Linked DNA regions of Homo sapiens. The protein of the gene in region 4 interacts with the protein of the main gene of each other region in a biochemical or structural test. Each region holds a gene or a part of one and is shown on either strand. Other genes may lie near its edges.

The links.
Region 1: the proteins of HUS1 (region 4) and RHNO1 form a complex in vitro, tested with the Homo sapiens proteins (2 studies listed by BioGRID).
Region 2: the proteins of HUS1 (region 4) and TOPBP1 form a complex in vitro, tested with the Homo sapiens proteins (one study listed by BioGRID).
Region 3: the proteins of HUS1 (region 4) and TDG form a complex in vitro, tested with the Homo sapiens proteins (one study listed by BioGRID).

The regions. Positions count from the first base shown.
Region 1 is NC_000012.12:2,887,164-2,890,033, reverse strand, and holds the end of RHNO1 (RAD9, HUS1, RAD1-interacting nuclear orphan protein 1), read right to left. Parts: intron 2,124-2,870; coding exon 1,575-2,123; 3' UTR 510-1,574; downstream 1-509. UniProt on the Homo sapiens protein: Involved in microhomology-mediated end-joining (MMEJ) DNA repair by promoting recruitment of polymerase theta (POLQ) to DNA damage sites during mitosis.
Region 2 is NC_000003.12:133,599,706-133,602,977, forward strand, and holds the end of TOPBP1 (DNA topoisomerase 2-binding protein 1), read right to left. Parts: intron 1,689-3,272; coding exon 1,545-1,688; 3' UTR 533-1,544; downstream 1-532. UniProt on the Homo sapiens protein: Scaffold protein that acts as a key protein-protein adapter in DNA replication and DNA repair. Composed of multiple BRCT domains, which specifically recognize and bind phosphorylated proteins, bringing proteins together into functional combinations.
Region 3 is NC_000012.12:103,975,872-103,982,871, reverse strand, and holds part of TDG (G/T mismatch-specific thymine DNA glycosylase), read right to left. Parts: intron 5,955-7,000; coding exon 5,812-5,954; intron 3,042-5,811; coding exon 2,800-3,041; intron 2,718-2,799; exon of another isoform or gene 2,245-2,717; intron 1,980-2,244; coding exon 1,910-1,979; intron 74-1,909; coding exon 1-73. UniProt on the Homo sapiens protein: DNA glycosylase that plays a key role in active DNA demethylation: specifically recognizes and binds 5-formylcytosine (5fC) and 5-carboxylcytosine (5caC) in the context of CpG sites and mediates their excision through base-excision repair (BER) to install an unmethylated cytosine.
Region 4 is NC_000007.14:47,969,603-47,976,670, forward strand, and holds part of HUS1 (checkpoint protein HUS1), read right to left. Parts: intron 6,086-7,068; coding exon 6,011-6,085; intron 1-6,010. UniProt on the Homo sapiens protein: Component of the 9-1-1 cell-cycle checkpoint response complex that plays a major role in DNA repair. The 9-1-1 complex is recruited to DNA lesion upon damage by the RAD17-replication factor C (RFC) clamp loader complex.

The DNA.
Region 1 (2,870 bases), on a different chromosome or scaffold from region 4:
CTCTTAACTCCCGACCTCAAATGATCCACCCGCCTCAGCCTCCGAAAGTGCTGGGATTACAGGCGTGGGCCCGTCCTGGAGACTCTTTCCATCTACCTTTCTACCTCCTGTGGGCCTTCCTCAAACATCCATAGCCCACCGTGAGAGCCCCTGTCTAAATGTGTACTCTTGTCTCCAATAAATCCCGTCCCCAAATGTCAGTCCCTTTCTCCCTACCGACATGCACATTATAGTCCCTACAAAACATCCTGAGTCCTGACAAGTCACTGCACAAATGGCTTTATGGCGTTCTAAGGTCAAAGTTGTTTCCACATTGGTTTTGAACCTACAAGTTAGTACTTTAGGAGGCACACGCTGAGAGTGGACCGTTACACTGCCTGGGTCAGCGTGCACTCACTGTGTGACCTGTGCATGGTTCATTCTCTGCATCAAACTCCCATCTGTAAAATATACAGTAATCCCTGCTTGATCTAGTTGGGGCTGGACCTGACACAGTAGGTCCAGCTGAATGAATGCTAAATGAATGGGTTTAATGAGATGCTACTTGTCTGAGTAAAAGGCCGAGACATTCGGTTGACTGGGGAAGTCCTTCTGCATTAATTACAATAAGTAATACTCATTGAAAACTTTCCTTATTTACACACAGTTGAACAGTTATTCTAAGAAACCATTTTCCCACCCTATTTAATATTGACAGATTTCTTCAGTTAGAAACAAAAACTCAAAACACACGCAATCCTAAAGAACTCATCTATGTCCCCCTTATCTCCCCTCATCTTATGTAGTCCCTAAAACAGGGCTTGCTGCCCTTTCTTCTTCTTGCCTTTTCAGCAGATGAGTCAAGGTTGCAGAGGTGGCAGTCAACCATAGAGTCACAGAGTTTGATTTTTTTCCATCCATCAGGTCGTAGAAGCTGCCACTGAGCCTGACAAGAGTTGGTACTCAAAAATGCAGAATGAATTAGTTTGAATGAGGTGATTAAGGATTAATGAGTAGTGGTTAAGGAAACAAAGACCATTAGTGGATGGGGTAATATTGCTGTATTACTGATGGAAGCAGGATTCTCTAAAAAAACTTTCTGCAGCCATTTACTTACATACATTTTAAAGAGTTACTACAAGATATTTTAAAAATTTAAACAGTTAATACAAGAAAAATATGAAGTGAATAGTTCATGACACTAAACTGAACTGTTCATGACACAAAGTATCTTAGAAAACAAATCTCGGCTGGGCCAGCACTTTGTGAGGTCAAGGCCAGCAGATGACTTGAGGTCAGGATTTTGAGACCAGCCTGGCCAACATGGAGAAACCACATCTCTACTAAAAATACAAAAAAATTAGCCAGGCATGGTGGCTGGTGCCTGTAATCCCAGCTACTGGGGAGGCTGAGGCAGGAGAATCGCTTGAACCCAGGAAGTGGTGGTTGCAGTAAGGTGAGATCATACCACTGCACTCCAGCCTGGGCAACAGAGCAATATTACATCTCAAAAACAAAAACAAAAACCCTAGGAATTGAATTCCTTTATGACTCCAGAAAACATATCTCTTTTCTATTGAGATTACTGATGGCAGTCAGCTTTTCACAAGGAATTGGCTTCTGCTCAGCTTCCCTCTCTCCCTGAGGTAAGCAAGCAGGTGCTGTCGTCTCCTCCATGTGACCTTTATTCCATACTTGTCCTCGGGGGTGTCTTTAACCAGAACAGGTCCAGGCTCTGGGCTATTAGGAGTGCCAGTGTGAAGAGTGCAGCTTAGAAGGCTGTTTTCCTTCTGATCTTGGGGAATGAGTTCTTCCTTCACAGACGATGACTCTGGGGTCTGGATATCAGGTGGAATGAACACATAAGGTAAGCTCTGAAGTGCCTGCACTGACATGTTCCCACAGCTTTGGGGACTGAGCACTGGAACTAAGGGTCTTCTGGAAACATCCTTTTCTGATTCACTGGGGCACTCTCGGATTAAGGGGATCCCCAATGTCTCTGAACTGGAAGATTGCGGACTCTCAAAAGTTAGATGTGGAAACTTGGAGGTGGTAGGTTTTCGACTTGAGTGTCTCGCCCGGTTTTGGTGTTTCTGGTAGGCTGGGAACAAGCTTCCTGCTGCTGTATCAAAATCAGGTGATACCTTAAAAAAAAAAAAAAAGTGAGGTGAGCCTAACTAAGTACTAACCTAAGAGAGGAAACTGTATCTGATGACCAGACTCTTAAATCGGGGTCTACTGTAGTAATGAACACAAAACTAAAATAACTGTCTAATGGCATAATAACAGGAAGCTTTGGGCAAATTATTCCATCTCTCCGGCCTTCAGCTTCCTCATGTGTAGGAAAGGGGACGATGTCTCTTTCACTTCATCACACCATATGGATATAACTTTTTTTCTTCCCCCTGGGATGGAGTCTCACTCCGACGTCTAGGCTGGAATGCAGCGGCACCATCTCGGCTCATTGCAACCTCTGTCTCCCAGTTCAAGTGATTCTCCTGCTTCAGCTTCCCGAGTAGCTGGGACTACAGGCGCCTGCCACCACGCCCAGGTATTTTTTTTTTTTTTTTTTTTTTGGAGACAGAGTTTTGCTCTTGTCGCCCAGGCTGGAGTGCAATGGCAGGTCTCTGCTCACTGCAACCTCCGACTCCCTGATGCAAGCGATTCTGCTGCCTAAGCTTCCCGTGTAGCTGGGAATATAGGTGCGCACCACCACGACCAGTTAATTTTTGTATTTTTAGTAGAGACAGGATTTTACCATGTTGACCAGGCTGACCTTGAACTCTTGACCTCAGGTGATCCACCCACCCCGGCCTTCCAAAGTGCTGGGATTACAGGCATGAGTCACGGCACCCAGCCAATTTTTATATTTTTAATAGAGTCAGAGTTTC
Region 2 (3,272 bases), on a different chromosome or scaffold from region 4:
ATTTGGAATTGAACGGTTTACATCAAAATTACATTCCTAACGGATTCTAGTTTGTCCTTAAAATGAAATTAGGTGTATTTATAGAGAATTCTGGTAACGCATGTAGTATTAGGTGTTTAGGTTTAGCATAATAAAGGCTAATGCAATACAGAGTTCCAATAACAGTATGTTTTAATCTAATAGGGCAATATTCTAAATAACAAATATCAGAAATGTTAAGCAATTCATTTATTTTTTTTGAGACAGGGTCTCATTCTGTCACCCAGGCTGGAGTTGCAGTGGCATGATTTCAGCTCACTGCAACCTCTGCCTCCTGAGTTCAAGTAATTCTCATGCCTCAGCCTCCCAAGTAGCTGGGACTACAAGCATCAAACAGCATGCCCGGCTAATTTTTTGCTATTTTTTGCAGAGATGGGGTTTCGCCATGTTGTCCAGGCTGGTCTTGAACTTCTGGGTTCAAGCAGTCCACCCACCTTGGCCTCCCAAAGTGGTGGGATTACAAGCATGAGCCACCGTGCCTGGCCTGCAATTCTTTTTTTTTTTTTTTTTGAGATGGAGTTTCGCTCTTGTTGCCCAGGCTGGAGTGCAATGGCGCGATCTCAGCTCACCGCAACCTCCGCCTCCCGGGTTCAAGCGATTCTCCTGCCTCAGCCTCCTGAGTAGCTGGGATTACAGGCATGTGCCACCACACTGGGCTAATTTTTTGTATTTTTAGTACAGATGAGGTTTCTCCATGTTGGTCAGGCTGGTCTCAAACTCCCGACCTCAGACGATCCGCCTGCCTCAGCCTCCCAAAGTGCTGGGATTACAGGCACGAGCCACCGCACCCAGGCCCCTGCAATTCATTTTTTACGTTACATAAATGTTTTGTTGCTTCAACAGAAGAACAGATGCCAGGGTGCTCTTTTAAAAAATTTATCTATGTAAACACATCTTAATACTAATTTGAGTTACTACTTTTATTCTTTATTGTCACATTTTCCAAGTTTTGCGCATTCAAACTTGGCAAACATCATGGAGATTTGTACAAACATACATATACATATATACACACATATTTATAGCCCCAGCTTCCTCATTAAACCTTGTGCTCAGGCTCCTGTTAAAAGAGGTAAAATGGTGAGAAGATAAAAATCAGGGAAAACATGAATAAATGCTGACTGACAAATCTTGTTGTTATGAATTTGTAAGGCAGACATTTTAAAGCAAAATCCATTACCTTGCTAAAATTTCCACTAAGCTACAGCTTCAGATATTTACAAGAAAAATAAATATCTTTTAACAGACTTCAATGTGGTTTAACAGCAAGCTAGCTGAGGAGTTGTATTTTGTTGTTATTTCAGGTAACTTTTTATTAAGAAACAGTTAATATTTCAGTGATTACAATTTCAGGTGTTCAAAACTCAAGAAGGGTCATCATTATACTCTGAAGCAGAATTCTTCAGGTACTCATCTTTAAATTACTACCCAAATCTATCACAGTCACATTCAGGCTTTCAATTTTTAAAAACATTTAATGTTTGGTAACTAAAGGGTAGATGCGATTAGTGTACTCTAGGTCGTTTGATTTTATTTTTTTCTGTAGGAGCTTTCCTCTTTTGTGATAATCCAGTCCCAAGTTCCTTATTATTCTGAATAAATGAAATAGCTTCTGGTAGACAGTAATTTTCTACATGAGGAGGTGATTCCTATAAAAGGAAAAATAAGTGATTTTTTAAAATGATTTCAAACATTTACGTGATCTGGTAATAGATTTTTTCTTTAAATCTCAGACCTCTCAGGGATGAATCTGACAAACTTAAAGGAAAACGCATATTCATTCCTAGGTTCCAGCAAATTAAACAAAATGGACCCTGTGGGACAAAGTCTCACCTTTTATCAAAGAAATACGTGTATGGTTCAGGTAGAGTGGGACTAGCTCAGATCTTACAAACATTTCATATCGGTGTTTTTAATCCCCATTTTTGAGATAAAATAAAAAAGGTTAAATGAAAACAACCAATGTCACATAACTAGCAGGTAGCAAAGCCAAATTTCATAACTGATCTGACTCCAAAACCCTTGCATTTTCCCCCCACAACCATTTCCCAACATAGAAATGGATCTTTTCCTCCTTATTATAAGTGTAATAAAACTTAATTTTCTAGCAATATGGCAGACTGGGCAACCTGAAAATGAATCACCACAAAATACCAAGTAAGTGCCTTTTGATTCAATTCTTCCATGGATAACAGCTACAAATTCTGACCAAAATATATTAAAAGCAACCATAGAGCCTGGAGAATAAACGAACCAAGCAAATGGGGGGCTGGGGACGCAAACACAGTGTATGAAGTAAACTGCCTGTTAAACAACACAGTACTCTTTGGAGGAGCAAAGGAACAATAGAACCTAGAGTTTCTTTTTTAGGGGGAGATAAGGGTCTTGCTGTGTTGCCCAGGCTGGTGGCTGGTCTCAAAAATGACACATTGAATACAAGGGAACAATTCAAATGACCATCACTGATTTCTCAACAGAAACAATGGAGGCCAGCAGACAGTGAAGTCTTTAATAGAAGAAAAAAACCTGTCAATCTATAATTCTGTATCCTGCAAAACTGTCCTTCAACAATGAAGGTAGAATAGACATTTCATACAACAGAAAGCTAGAATTGATCCCCAATCAACCTGCACTCCAAACTAAAGTTAGTTCTTCAGGCTGAAGGAAAATGTTATCAGATGGAAACTCAGATCTTCAGGGAAAACTGACACTCAAACTGGTATACATGAGGGTAATTATAAAATACCATTTTTTATTTTAGTTTCCTCAAAATGCACAGAATTGTTAAAAGCAAAACCTATTTAAAGTAAAATCTTATTTGGGGCTATAAGATGTAGATGTAAAATATATGACAACTACTGCATAAAGCAGAGGTCAGCACACTTTCTGTAAAGGCTCAGACAGAAACATTTTAGATTTTGTGGGATAGATGATTTGTGCTGAAACTACTTAACTCTGCCATTATAGTGCAAAAGCAGCCATAGAAAATACATAAATGAATGAGTATGGCTGTTTTCCAACAAACCTTTATTTATAAAATAGGCAGTGGGCCAGGTTTGGCCAGGTGGCTATAGTTTACTGACCCCTGGTATAAAGGACAGGGGAAGCAAATGAACCAACTTGGATGCAAGAGATCTACCTTTTTTCATTTTTTTTTTTTTTTTTTTTGAGACAGAGTTTCGCTCTTGTCACCTAGGCTGGAGTGCAGAGGCACGATCTTGGCTCACTGCAGC
Region 3 (7,000 bases), on a different chromosome or scaffold from region 4:
TTCCCTGGTAGAGTGTGATCATCCATATGGTTCAGCTGGACCTCACTGAGCCCTGACATAAACAAACACTTCCCTGTAAAATGAAAATTCAGTTATTTATTTTTTTTTAGACAGGGTCTCGCTCTGTCACCCAGGCTAGAGTGTAGTGGCACGATCATGGCTCAGTGCAGCCTCGACCACCGAGGCTCAAGCAATCCTCCCACTTCAGCCTCCTGAGTGGCTGGAACCCCAGATGCACACCACCACGCCCAGCTAATTTTTGTATTGTTTGTAGACAGGGTTTCACCATGTTGCCCAGGCTGGTCTTGAATTCCTGGGCTCAAGTGATCTTCCCACCTCAGCCTCCAAAATTGCTGGGATTACAGGTGTGAGCCACAGCGCTTGGATTTAATCATCATAATTATCTTGCAAGATACTATTATTATCTCCTTTTCACAGGGGGTTGAGGCAAATGCCTGCCCAAGAATATATAGCAACTCAGTTTAGGAAACTTTGAGACTATTTTGCTTTACAATTGGTGATACCACCACCTCACACGTAAACATACAGCACTAGACTAACAACATTCAAACACCTTGACAGTGAAGAAAGTCAAAAGTCCAAACTTCCCTTAAAAAGGAATTTTTTAAAATAATAGGGACAATATGTTATTATTAGTTCCAAAACCACATTACTATCAGTTGCCCTAAATGTTTTGAATGTTACTATTAGATAATCAATTTCCTGAGCGTATACTGCATACACTGATCTATTAGGCAGTATAAAATAAGATGATTTATATACAAGACAACTTATATAGAGAAGGCAATGCAACAGTAGTTACGCTTGTTTTTTGTTTGTTTTCTTGTTTGTTTTTGTGATACAGGGTCTAGTTCTGTCACCTAGGCTGGAGTGCAGTGGAGTAATTATGGCTAACTGCAGCCTCAACCTCTCAGGCTCAAGCAATTTTCCCAACCCAGCCTCCGTAGTAGCTGGAACTACAGGTGTGCACCACAGCACTCAGCTAATTTTTTATTTATTTTTTTGTAGAAATGAGATCTTGGTATGTTGTACAGGCTAGTCTCAAACTCCTGGCCTCAAGTGATCCTCCTGCTTTGGCCTCCCAAAGTGTTGGGATTACAGGTGTGAGCCACCAGATCCAGCCAACACTTGGTTTTAAAACTTACTCTAAAAATATGAGTCTTTACTACTATTTTATGCTCTGCTAGAAAATAATCACCAGAAATCTGGGAAAGTTAGTATTATGTCTGCACTGCCACAAAGATGTACTATACTATCGTTACTATGCCTATAGATAACAACTTTTAAAAAATCATTTTTAAAAAGTAATACAACTTGGCTGGGCGTTGTAGCTCACGCCTGTAATCCCAGCACTTTGGGAGGCTGAGGTGGGCAGATCACCTGAGGCCGGGAGTTCGAGACCAGCCTGACCAACATGGAGACACCCCGTCTCTACTAAAAATACAAAATTAACCAGGCGTGGTGGTACATGCCTGTAATCCCAGCTACTAGGGAGGCTGAGGCAGGAGAATCACTTGAACCTGGGAGGTGGAGATTGTGGTGAGCCGAGATCGCGCCATTGCACTCCAGTCTGCGCAAAAAGAGCGAAACTCCATCTCAAAAAAAAAAAAAAAAAAAAAAAAAAGTAGTACAACTCATTAGAAACAATTCAAACAAAAGAGAAAGTACTCTTATTCACATCCCTCCATTCTCATAGACTAAAATGTTAACAGTAACATATCATTTCAAACTCTCTTATTTTCACGTACAGACACACACACAGAACATGAAACACGAATGTGTATTTACAGTCTCTTTCTTTTTAAAAACACAATTGGTTTTTCTGAAAAAACCTGTTAACAAAGATACCTAATTTAAAAGTAAATTAATTTAAAAGGTAACCACTTACAAAAATGGTTTCCAGGTCCAGGGTAATGATGCCCTTTGTAAGCAGCCATTAGTCCCGGGTTTATGCCAATCTATAAAACAAAACAATTAGACATTTCATCTTAAAAAGCAGGACCTAAGCCTTAGCGTTTCTATGGAGGAGTGGTGGACAAAATTGAGTTGATTAAAATACAAATTTAATTCAGCATCATAAGCAATATCATTTATCAATTACTACTCTTGATCTGAACAAAGTATTTCATATATGGGAAAGAGATTTTCTTTATTTTAAAAGTTTTGCTGTTATTTTAAAAAACCAGTTTGACTCCTTTATGATCCCAGGCCTCGCACCCTCACCAACTGGGCTGCTTTGAGTCTGGAAAGACAGGTCCTGGAACAATCAATCTGAGCCCATGTCCAGCCACAATTCTGATTCTCAACTTTCAACAAGAAGCTCGCTCCACATCACCTACACAATTGTTCACATGCTGATGTTTCTTACAGTTACTGAGAAAAATAAGAGCTTAAAATTAGTGCTGCCATGTATCAGGTCTCCACAGGCATCATTCAGTTGAAGTGATTCACATGGATTCTCTCATTTACTTGCAACCCTATCGGGGGGTGGTATTATCACCCCTGGTTTATCAATGAGAAAACCGGTGTTTAGAAAGGTTAATAAGACTTATCCAAGATTATACTTGTGACAGGATTTGAACCCAGACAGTCTAAATTTGGAGCCCACCCTCTTAAACACTCTCATATAACACAACCTCATGAAGCTGACACCATTTACCACCAAAAGGATTCTTAGAAATGGTCCTTTTCAGCAAAATGCTATTTGCAAGGACAACTGTTAAGTAAAGCTGATCCCCCAATACTACTTATAAAATCCAACGAGGACAAAGATCTTACAATGACAATGTCCAGATTGAAGGTCAAAATATCGGGGAGAGTCTTGGTCAGAAGTTCAGCTTCTGAAACACCATTAAAACGGTCTACTTTTCTTTTTACTTTAAATGTGTCTGTAATTTTTTCTTGTTTTTCTTTTGATTTTGCAGACTTGCCAGATTTTTTTGACTCAACAGGTTTTTTGGGTTCCACTGGTTGTTTTGGTTCTGTTGTTCTGGGTTTTCTTTTTCTTCCTTTTGGAGCCTCTGAAATACAAATAATTTCCAGAAATGCAGAAAATCTTAACTTAGAAACTTTAGCAGCTTTCCCAGAAAAGTTACCCAACTAGCACCTTTTGTACCTGTCTCCCCAAAATTAAGCTCTTACAGTCCCAACATGAGTCTCCTCTGCAATATCTTCCCTTTCTTTCTCCCTAGAACTGGGTTCGTGCAACCCCCCATGCCACTCTCCTTCCCCTGCTAGCTGTTCGTGGGAAGAATAATCATAGACTATTATTTTCGACACAGTATTACTTGGCATCTTAACCTCCTCAAGGATACAAAGTATCTACATATCATTTTATATAAATTCTAAATGTAAATACATAAATAATTAAATAAGAACAGAAAAATAGAGAAACAGGAAGGAAGGGAAACATTTTAACTCAACTTCCCCAGTAGAAAACCACAAATGGGCCAGGTATGGTGGCTCATGTCTGTAATCCCAGCACTTTGGGAGGCCAAGGCAGGCAGATCACCTGACGTCAGGAGTTCAAGACCAGCCTGGCCAACATGGTGAAACCCCCGTCTTTACTAAAAATACAAAAATTAGCCAGGCATGGTGTCGTGCACCTGTAATTCCAACTACTCGGGAAGCTGAGGCAGGAGAATTGCTTGAACCCAAGAGGTGGAGGTTGCAGTGAGCTGAGATCATGCCTCTGCATTCCAGCCTGGGCAACAGAGCAAGACTCTGTCCAAAAAAAAAAAAGAAAGAAAAAAGAAAAACACAATGGCTTGTGGGCTTGTTTTAGAGATGAGGTGTATATTCTGTTCCATACATAGTTGAAGAGGGGAATTTAGGGGTGCCCAGGATGACATCTCTGGGCTGGCAGTATTTTTCAAAAGGCAAGAGGAGGGATCCAACCTCAGGACGTAAAGCAGTTTCTCAGCCTCCACACTATTGACATTTTAGGTTGCATAATTTTTTGTTGTGGGTGGCTGTACTGCACATTACAGAATGTTTAATAGCACCCCTGATCTCTACCCACTAGATGCCAGTAGTAACCTGCCAGTCTTGATCATCAAAAGTGTCTTCAGACAATGTCAAATGTCCCTTGGGAGGGCAAAATCACCCTTGATTGAAAACCACTGACCTATAGTTACCCAACAGGAAGCCCTGATTTTCTTACCCTTAATTATTTAACATTTCTCCTAACTACTCAGGCTTCTACCCTATTCTACTCCTCTTTGGCGTTTCCCCAATCAAGCCTCGCAGGATACAGGCAGTCAGTCCCTCCTCTCTTCTGCCTCACATTGTCTTAGCCACTCCCTATGCCAACAGATCCACCATCACTGGCATGTAGCTGGGGAAGTCCTAATGCGGAGGCAGAGTTATTAGATGTGTTCCTGCAATCATAAACCAAAACCCTGAGCACATTTCTCATAAAATACTGTTACACTGGAGAAAATCATTAACTTCTCTCCAACCACTCTCCCACCCCTGGAACCTATTATTTTCTTCTAATTCTCTGTCTTGGTGAGTGGCACCTCCTCCAACCAAATGCCAATGCCAGAAACCTGGTAGTTACTTCTGGACTCCCCTTTCTCCCCCACTATCCTGCCATGCTCCCCCCAAACACATGAAACCCATTAGCCATGGCTAGGTAATTCTACCTCCTAAGTGTTTCCTAATTCTTTCTCCACCCCTTCAGGTCCTCCTCAGTGCTCCCCTAGATTATTCAAACAGTGTCTCTAATCCATCTAATCCACTCCTTGACTCCAAGTTTTGTTTTTGTTTTTGTTTTTGTTTTTGTTTTTGAGACAGAGTCTCGCACTATTGCCCAGCTGGAGTGCAGTGGTGCAATCTTGGCTCACTGCAGCCTCTCAGCCTCCGCCTCCAGGATTCAAGCAATTCTCGTGCCTCAGCCTCCCCAGTAGCTGGAATCACAGGTGTGCGCCACCATGCCCGGCTAATTTGTGTGAGGCAGGGTTTTGCCATGTTCGCCAGGCTGGTCATGAACTCCTGACCTCAGGTGATCTACCCGCCTCAGCCTTCCAAAGTGCAGGGATTACAGGTATGAGCCACTGTGCCCGGCCTGCCTCCAAGTTCCGACTTGTTGTCTACCAACCAATCTATCTTCTCTAATATTTCCAGGCTAATTTGTAAAGCACCAGTCAAGTAAGTCATCCCTTGCTTACATTCTCTCAACAGCTCCCTATTGCCTTCATGATAGAATATAAATTCTTTGGGATTAAAAAACAAGTTTCAACTGTCCCCATCCAGCCTCACCTCTCACCATTTCCTTGTTATATCCCAGACTCCAAGGACACAGAATTGCTCTGTTTCTGGCCATGCCATGCTTGTGTGTGTCTGTACCCAGCCTGTATAGCTCCCTCAGCCTGGACATGTCCCTACTCTGATCTTTATCGGGATGAAGCCTCCACATTGTTGGAGTTTCAGAGCCCTGGTGTTATTTCTCTGCTCTGGGAAGCAGCCTCTGAGCCATCAGTCTGAGTTAGAAGCCAACCCCATAAGCTTTCAGGGCATTCATTCTATGCCCCTCTTCACTACAAACTGTGCTGAGCTGTAACGTGTATTTACTTATTACTTTTCTCTACTAGATTATGAGATATTTTTGGGCAGGACCCATGTTCTTTTATTCCCCAGAACCTATCAGTGCTTAGCACATACTAAGTACTTAAAAAGTGGATTTGACTTTTTAACACTAAAATAGAGCTAAAATTCACCATGAAACCCTTTCTCAAATAAGCTGGCTGATCCGATGTTGAACTTTCTAAGCTCTCATGGTGAAACTACCTTGCACTGGTTCCTGAGCAGGAGCTGGGGCTGGAACTTCTTCTGGCATTTGCTGTTCATTCACAACTGCCATATTAGGAGCTTCAGCCATCAGTTGTTGAAATGGAAACGTATAAAAAGCTTGAGCTTGCTGAAGGGAATAGCTGAAAGAATAATGAAGCATGAGATGTAATGATAAAATTACCCAAATGTAAATCCAAATGATCAGCTGTACAAAAATCTTCAGTACAGTATTAAGTATTTTGTAACCAGACTGAAGTATTTATTTAGAGTGGATTACAGAGGAGAGATCTAGTCCTGTATGTACATGTTCACCAACCTTTACTGAGTGCTTAATAACCAACCATTAACTCTTGCACTGTTTAAATGATAAGATGTGTCACTGATAAAACTGATCAGTCCTGTCAAGTCAGCCCATACTTTCTCTGAAATAAGATTTGAGGGAGTTTTCTAGTAGACAGACTTGAAAGGTCTATCAACCCATACAGGGTTAAGATGTCCCCAAATACAATTTGTGCCCCTACTTTCCTTCAGTATTTAATCACCTGAAGATCCCCTCCAATCTAATTAAGATTCTCTTTTAGTTTATTTTTATTTGCCTGTTTACTTATTTTTTCATTAGTTTGTGTGTGTGTGTGTGTGTGTGTGTGTGGGGAGACAGGGTCTCCCTCTGTCACCCAGGTTGGAGTGCAGTAGTGTGATCTTGGTTCACTGTTACTTCTGAGGTGGGAGATCTCAAGTGATCCTCCCACCTCAGCCTCCCAAGTAGCTGGGACTACAGGAGCGAGCCCCAATGCCTGGCTAATTTTTGTAATTTTTGTCTAGACAGGGTTTTGCCATGTTGGCCAGGCTGGTCTTGAACTTCTGAGCTCAAGAGATCTGCCCATCTCAGTTTCCCCAAGTGCTAGGATTACAGATGTGAGCCACTGCACCCAGGCCTATATTTGATTTTTATTGATGGTGGTATTTTTGTTTTGTTGGGGCTAGGGCTTTTTTTTTTTGCCACTGCTATGGTTTGAATGTGTCCCCCAAAGTTCACGTGTTGAAAACTAAATCCCCAATGCAAGTGTTGAGAGGTAGGACCTTTATGAGGTGACAAGGCCGGGCACAGTGGCTCACACCTGTAAACCCAGCACTTTGGGAGGCCGAGGAGGGTAGATCACCTGAGGTCAGGAGTTTATAACCAGCC
Region 4 (7,068 bases):
TTGCCAGGAGACTACAGCAGCACAAGGGCAGGGCTCTAGGGAGGGCTGGGTGGAGCTGATGAGAACTCCCTCACAGCAGGAGAGAGTCCTGCACTGAGAAGGAACCACGGGAAGTAAGAGCCTCAACTAAGCAGAATGGGCACCTTGGGCAAAAAAAAGGGAATGAAACTTTAAATGAAGGAAAAAGAGGGACAGATCTCAGAAAGTCCTGGGGATGTGGTGAGGATGCATGTTTTAATATTTTGTGGTTACAAAGAATAGAGAATTCTAGAGTCATTAAATTAGAAAACTATTTTGGTCCACTTTCACTCCTACAATGAAACTTCCTCCTAAAAGAACCAGAAAAACCAGCCGGGCGCGGTGGCTCTCGCTTGTAATCCCAGCACTTTGGGAGGCCGAGGCGGGCGGATCACGAGGTCAGGAGATCAAGACCATCCTGGCTAACACGGTGAAACCCCGTCTCTACTAAAAATACAAAAAATTAGCCGGGCGTGGTGGCGGGCGCCTGTAGTCCCAGCTACTCGGGAGGCTGAGGCAGGAGAATGGCATGAACCCGGGAGGCGGAACTTGCAGTGAGCCGAGATTGCGCCACTGCACTCCAGCCTGGGTGAAAGAGCGAGACTCTGTCTCAAAAAAAAAAAAAAAAAAAAAAGAGAAATGAACAATAATAGACGCTATGACACAACAACATAAATCAGAATTAGGGAAGCTCAGACATGAGATGACCAGAGAGCACGCACATAAAACACAGCTGACAGCACAGGAAGTAATTAGAAACATAAGGAAAAATTTCAGAAACAGAAACTAGTTTAGAAGGAAGACTAGAGCAAATAGGCACCACAGAGAGAATAGTAAGAGAAACTGGGATGGAAAGGAGAAAGATAAAATTTACCAAACAGAAACAAAGAGTTAAAAGGATCTGACAGAAAATAATAAAGACAGTGGAGAAGATCCAAGCCCTCTGAGTCCCAGAAGAAAAACAAAGCACTGGAAAAGAAATGCTATCAACTACAGCTCAAAACTTTCCTGAAGTGAATGAAGAGTTCGGCCCACATATTGAAAGGACACACCACACACCTGGGAAAACTGACCCCGGATGGTCAAGACAATTGGATTGAAAGAAAAATGGGAAAAATCCCCAGGGTATTTAGTCCCCACTTTCAAATGAATAAATCCAAGCTGTGAAACAAAATCAGAATGGAGTCATTCTTTTTGATAGCAATAATATACACCAGCAGACAATGCAGTGCAGTGAGCCAAACTGACATTATAAACACATGATAACCAATGAAATCCTATTCCTGTGAGTCCTTCTTGAGTGATATGCTAGAGAATAGGCTTTTAATAACCAAAAAAATCATTGGAGAAGTTACAGCATAAACAGTGTGAGCCTTATTTTGACCTTTAGAACCAAAACTAAACAACAGGAATGAAGAGGACAGAATAACGTGTAGTAATAAAATTTTATGCTCTGATGATGTAGACATAATATAACCATTACAAAACAGGAAGGGGGAAAATGAGAAGAATGTGGAAATCAGTGTCTTATTTTTATAAAATATAAATCAACCATTTGTCATAAACACACATTTAATATGACTATAAGGCCTTCAGAATCTCATGAGAACATAGCCATTTATTTAGAAAATAAACTCACATGTTGGAAAATGAAATGTCCAAATCCAGAAGGGTCTGGGGCTGCTGTTGGGTTACCAGGACTGAGGATGGCTGAGCCAAACTCCACACGCCCAGGCTACCAGACTTCTGCCATCCCCTCATATACCATCGGGCACCCCTCTTCTACTCCTGCTCTTGCTGCCCGGGGACTGTCTCCACAGGTCACAAGGGACTCCTTTCCTTTGAAGCTCCTCTACCCACCCCAACAACCAATCAGTTCTTTTAATTGGATGGAACCTAGAAGTGAAGCATATGCCACAGTATGGTTTGAGGTTTTGCTAACCTATCCTGGTCCACTCCCGCACCTACAATGAAATTTCCTCCTAAAAGAACCAGTACCTGTTATTTCTCTTTTTGATGTTGATATCTGCCCAATGTTAAAGCCTAGGAGGTCTCTGGAAAGCCAGTGTGTAGTCTGCTGGATAGCATTTTGCCATCTAGTACTAGAAAAGTGCCACCTAGCAACTGGTCTTATTTAGGGCCATTCCATCCTCACAGTGTCACAGAAAGAAAACAGAGAAGGCACTCTGTCTGCACGGCTCTGTATCAGTGTTCATGTTTACTGAATACAATTTAGTGTTCCTTGTTCTTATTCCTTAAAATTGGTGAACTCTGAATAGTTTTCATTCCAGAAACAAAGTTTTTCTAATTTGGGTGAGCTCTTATTTCTGAGCTTTTCACATTAATAGAAAAATAGTGCCCCAAACTTACCTGTTGTATAATCTACTTTGAATGAGAAATACTCATTTTCAACCCTTTTCTTTCATTAATCCAAAAAAATATATTGTTATATTTCCTAACCCGTTTTCCTACAATCTGGAACAATAGTTGACTGAAATAAAATATATAAAACAATCTTTGTGAATATGCTAGACTGCTTAGTGGGGCTAAGGCTAACACATGACCTTAGCTCATTTGTTCCAAACAACCACACACCCAAGATCTGTAAATTCCCATTGTTTTGAAAAGCAATGGTTTTAGATATAAATAAATAAATACTTATTTAAAAATGCAACTTGCAATGGGCCTAGATGCACTTCAGGCTTAAATGTTCTCTTGTGTTTTCTTCAAATTCCTAAGAATCTCAGTAACAGAACATTAGATTCCAACTCCCTCCTAACCATTAACACCTGGTGCCTAGCACATGGTGGCCTTAAGTCAATACTTACTGAAGAAACTAACAAACAACTAATTCTCTGAACACTGGTCACTCATGTCTATTTTAAGATTCAGTTATTTGGGATATTATACACAACAACACACTTGATTTCTTAAGTATCAGGGTAAGATCTTTCAATGATTTCCTTAAAATAGTCAACTATTGTTTATAGAATGCTGACTATACTGGGCACCTAGTAAAAATTATCTCTAAATTTTTAAAAACTGACGAAGCCCCTGTCATAGCTGCACTGTTATCCCCATTTGGGGTAGTATCCAGCACTAGGGTACTCACTGCACAGCGCAGCCTGGAGCTGAACCCAGGTATGTGGCTCCAATGACTCCCCTCTTCCATATCATGACTCCTAAACATAGACTCTGGTTTCTATCATTAGGTGACCCTGCAGAGCCGTTTCTCAGATAACATTTGAAGTACAATATAGTATGGCAATGATGTGGTTTGTTTTGGCTCAGCAACCCCACCCAAATCTCATCTCGAATTGTAATCCCCAAGTGCTGAGAAGGGGCCTGGTGGTAGGTGACTGGATCATGGGGGCAGCTTTTCCCATGCTGTTCTCTTGATAGTGAGGGAGTTCTCATGAGATCTGATGGTTTTAAAAATGGCAGTTTTTCCTGTGTTCTTCTCTCTCCAGCTGCCATGTTAAGACGTGCCTTGCTTCCCCTTTGCCTTCTGTCATGACTGTAAGTTTCCTGAGGCCTCCTCAGCTATACAGGACTGTGAGTCAATTAAACCTCTTTTGTTTATAAATTACCTGGTCTCAGGTAATATCTTTTTAGCAGCGTGAAAACGGAGTAATACAGGCACACATCACAAAGTACTGCTACATGATGTGGTCTGAAGACAGGCAGCATCGACATCTCCCAGGAGCTGGTCAGAAACAGAGCCTCAGGCTCCAGCTCAGACCTCCCAAATCAGAACCTGCACTTTAACCAGATTCCAGGGGATTCACACGCATGGTAGAACTTAGAAGCAATGTCTTAGAACATGATGTCAATTCCCTCCAGTTCTTGCTTCTTTTTCTGCTCCTGCATGAGTCACATACAACCCACCCCATCAGTCACACCTCGCATTTAATGAAAGGAAGTAACTGGGCATCTCTAATGGGAAGGTGGGCATTTTTAGTGTGTTAAGTCTACCCATTTTCCTTAATTCTACTGCCTGTAATATTCAGATACAGAATTCTGGATACCCAGGAAGACCTCATTATGTACTTTGCTACAGTAACTTGATAACTTTCCATTTAGTAATTCCAGATCGTAGTAGCCTCTCCACAATATTTCTATGTTTTTTTAAACTCCAAAAAAGAGAAAACAAAACACCTCTGATGATTCTAAGCTACCCTTCTACCTCTCTACCTTGCTGACTCATTTTCATTGAACAGAAAGAACAAACAAATGCCATCCTTCAATTAACAGCCCTGTCTTTTCTCTCCTGGGCCTCTCTGAATTTCTCTGGAAGTCCCCAGGGTATCCCCAGATGAAGCCAGCCTGACAACTGGATCAGCATCACTGCAGTCACAGGTGACACCAACGTCAGCACAGTGCACACTGCTTCATGGAAAACAGATTTTATAGATTAAGTTATGAAGGAAAAGCTTTGAGTTACCCAGGTCCAATGACAGCATTGCTCTTAGTGTGCAGAACTCTAGAAAAAAACAGTCAAATGTACATTTTCTAGGCTTCAAAATACTTTTGTGATTTCAAAGACCTCTTGAAGCTAAATTTTGTTCCAGATCCATGCAACACTTATTGCTGCCTACTGAGTGGCAATCCCACACTGGGCAGCTGGGACACAAAGATGATTAAGATGGGGTTTCCTTTATCAAGAAGCTGGTGGTTCACGAGACCTTCAGAGATCTTAGCAGGTGATTTACCATGTACACTGGACAGCTCAGCTCCATGGAGGAGCTTCCAGAGGGGTGGTGGGGAAAGGTCTGTGATGAAGCATGAGAATGGCTAAGTGCCTTCCAGGGAGATGGAGAGAAGAAGCCATGTGTCAAATGGCAAAGAAACTGAACAAAAAAGAAGAGGCATTGTGGGGGAATACCAGAACCCAGCCTCGTTCTGCAGGGAGGGTGTGGCAATACAACAGAGATGTGGCTATAAAGGTGGCCTGGTACACTGTCAAGATCAAAAGTTTATGCTTCATCAGGTGGACAGTGGTTTTTAGAAGATTCAGGGACATAACCAAGGGTGTTTTTTGGAGCAGGATAGGAGGGAGCAGGGGGAGGAGGGAGGGGCAGTGAGTGAAGGAAGAATTCACAATAACCCCAGGTATGAATGAGGATAACCTACACATTTCCCACCACTGTCACACACTGTAACATTTCGAGCCATGTGGCCATAGGAGACTTCCACAAAATAAACAGAAAATAAACAGAAATATAAAAGTGCCCCCTAGCTTGGTGTGAGGTGTGCTTGGAATAAAGGCTGCTATGGTGTGGCATATCTTTGTCCCTGGCTCACTGAAAGACACTTGGCACGCAGACAGGAAACTCCAAACTCACTGTCAGTCATATCAGTGACTCACAGAAAAATACGGGCACGTTAGCAGGTAAAAGATACAATGTTCCAGCCGGGCGCGGTGGCTCACGCCTGTAATCCCAGTACTTTGGGAGGCCTAGGCGGGCGGACCACGAGGTCAGGAGATCGAGACCATCCTGGCTAACACGGTGAAACCCCGTCTGTACTAAAAATACGAAACAAAAAATTAGCCAGGCATGGTGGCAGGCGCCTGTAGTCCCAGCTACTCGGGAGGCTGAGGTGGGAGAATGGCATGAACCCGGGAGGCGGAGCTTACAGTGAGGTGAGATGGCGCCATTGCACTCCAGCCTGGGCGACAGAGTGAGACTCTGTCTCAAAAAAAAAAAAAAAAAAGAAAGATACAATGTTTCATACAAAATATAAGAGGAAAAACAGGCAGATTAAAGGCAAATATAAAAGCTTTCCTCAAAGAATTAGAGTTGAAAAGTATTGGAATAGGTTTCTAAATCCAACTAGCAATCTGCAGGTTCTCAGCACCAGGCCAGGTCCTCATAAGTGGGAACTCGGTTAGGAGGTGCCCACCTGCATGGACTGCTGCAGGGTGAGCTGGAGAACCCACGCCGTCCCACCAAATACTTCAGAGTTCTTTTCTAAAGAAGTTGTGACTTACAAGGTGATTGCTGATGTTTTTCATTTTTTCCACAACACTCTTCATAGTCTTCAAGACTGGTAAATAAATACTAACCTACAAAACCAATGAGAAAAAAGCACAAGTATTAAAAATATTAATATACTCTAGTAATGACAAGGGCCCCATAACTAACTCTAGAACACATGCATGCTCAAAAACTATGGGATACTATTTTACAATTTTCTGAATAAAGTTCTTTTAAAAATATAAAAAGAAAACCAATTCTATTTCACTAACTCAAGGATGCTCAAGCAAAATTAAAGAATGGAATGCCTGCCTCTGGTTACCTCAGCAACCATGTCCCTGTGGGCATTCTTTTGGCTCAAGAAGGAATAGGGTACTTCAGCTGAGATGCCCCTATATTGGTCCAGGGGGAATATAACTCAGGCAATCAGCAGGAGGCCCTCCTCTAAGGGACATTTACACCTATGATTCAAGGGCCTTTTCCATGCTCTGTACAAAAACATGGCAGACAGTCACTGCATCACATCTGAGACTGTTACCAAGAGTGCTCTATAAAACACAGGCTTTTTCAAAATCAGTGTAGGTGCCATCTAGTAAAAGTCAAGTAATTATTTTACCCAGCATATTTCTGTACTTTCTTCTTAAACAAATTGTGAGCAAGAGGAAATGGGCCCTTTGGCATCATCTTTACTTTCAGGAGCTCTAGGGTTAACCATCGGCATGACCGTTACCCCATGTTAGCCCTAAGCCATGAAATTCTTCTCTTCTTGGCTTTCGTGCACATCCAGATATCGCTCCTGACCGGCTGAGGAAAAGATCAAGTCCTGTGAAACCCAAATTGGTGTCTAAGGCCAAGAATACTAATAAATACTAATTGTCCTCCAAAAGTATCATTTGTGTTTTAAGTGATGTTACTGAGCGAGACATTTTCTACATATAGGATGGCATGACATTTCTATCATATGCAACATTTTTAAGATGCTTTATGTAAATAACAAAAGGCAAATAATCTAATGTTTTCGTTAAGTATCCTTTAAAAATAAAATATACTGCAAGACTACAACTAAAACTAG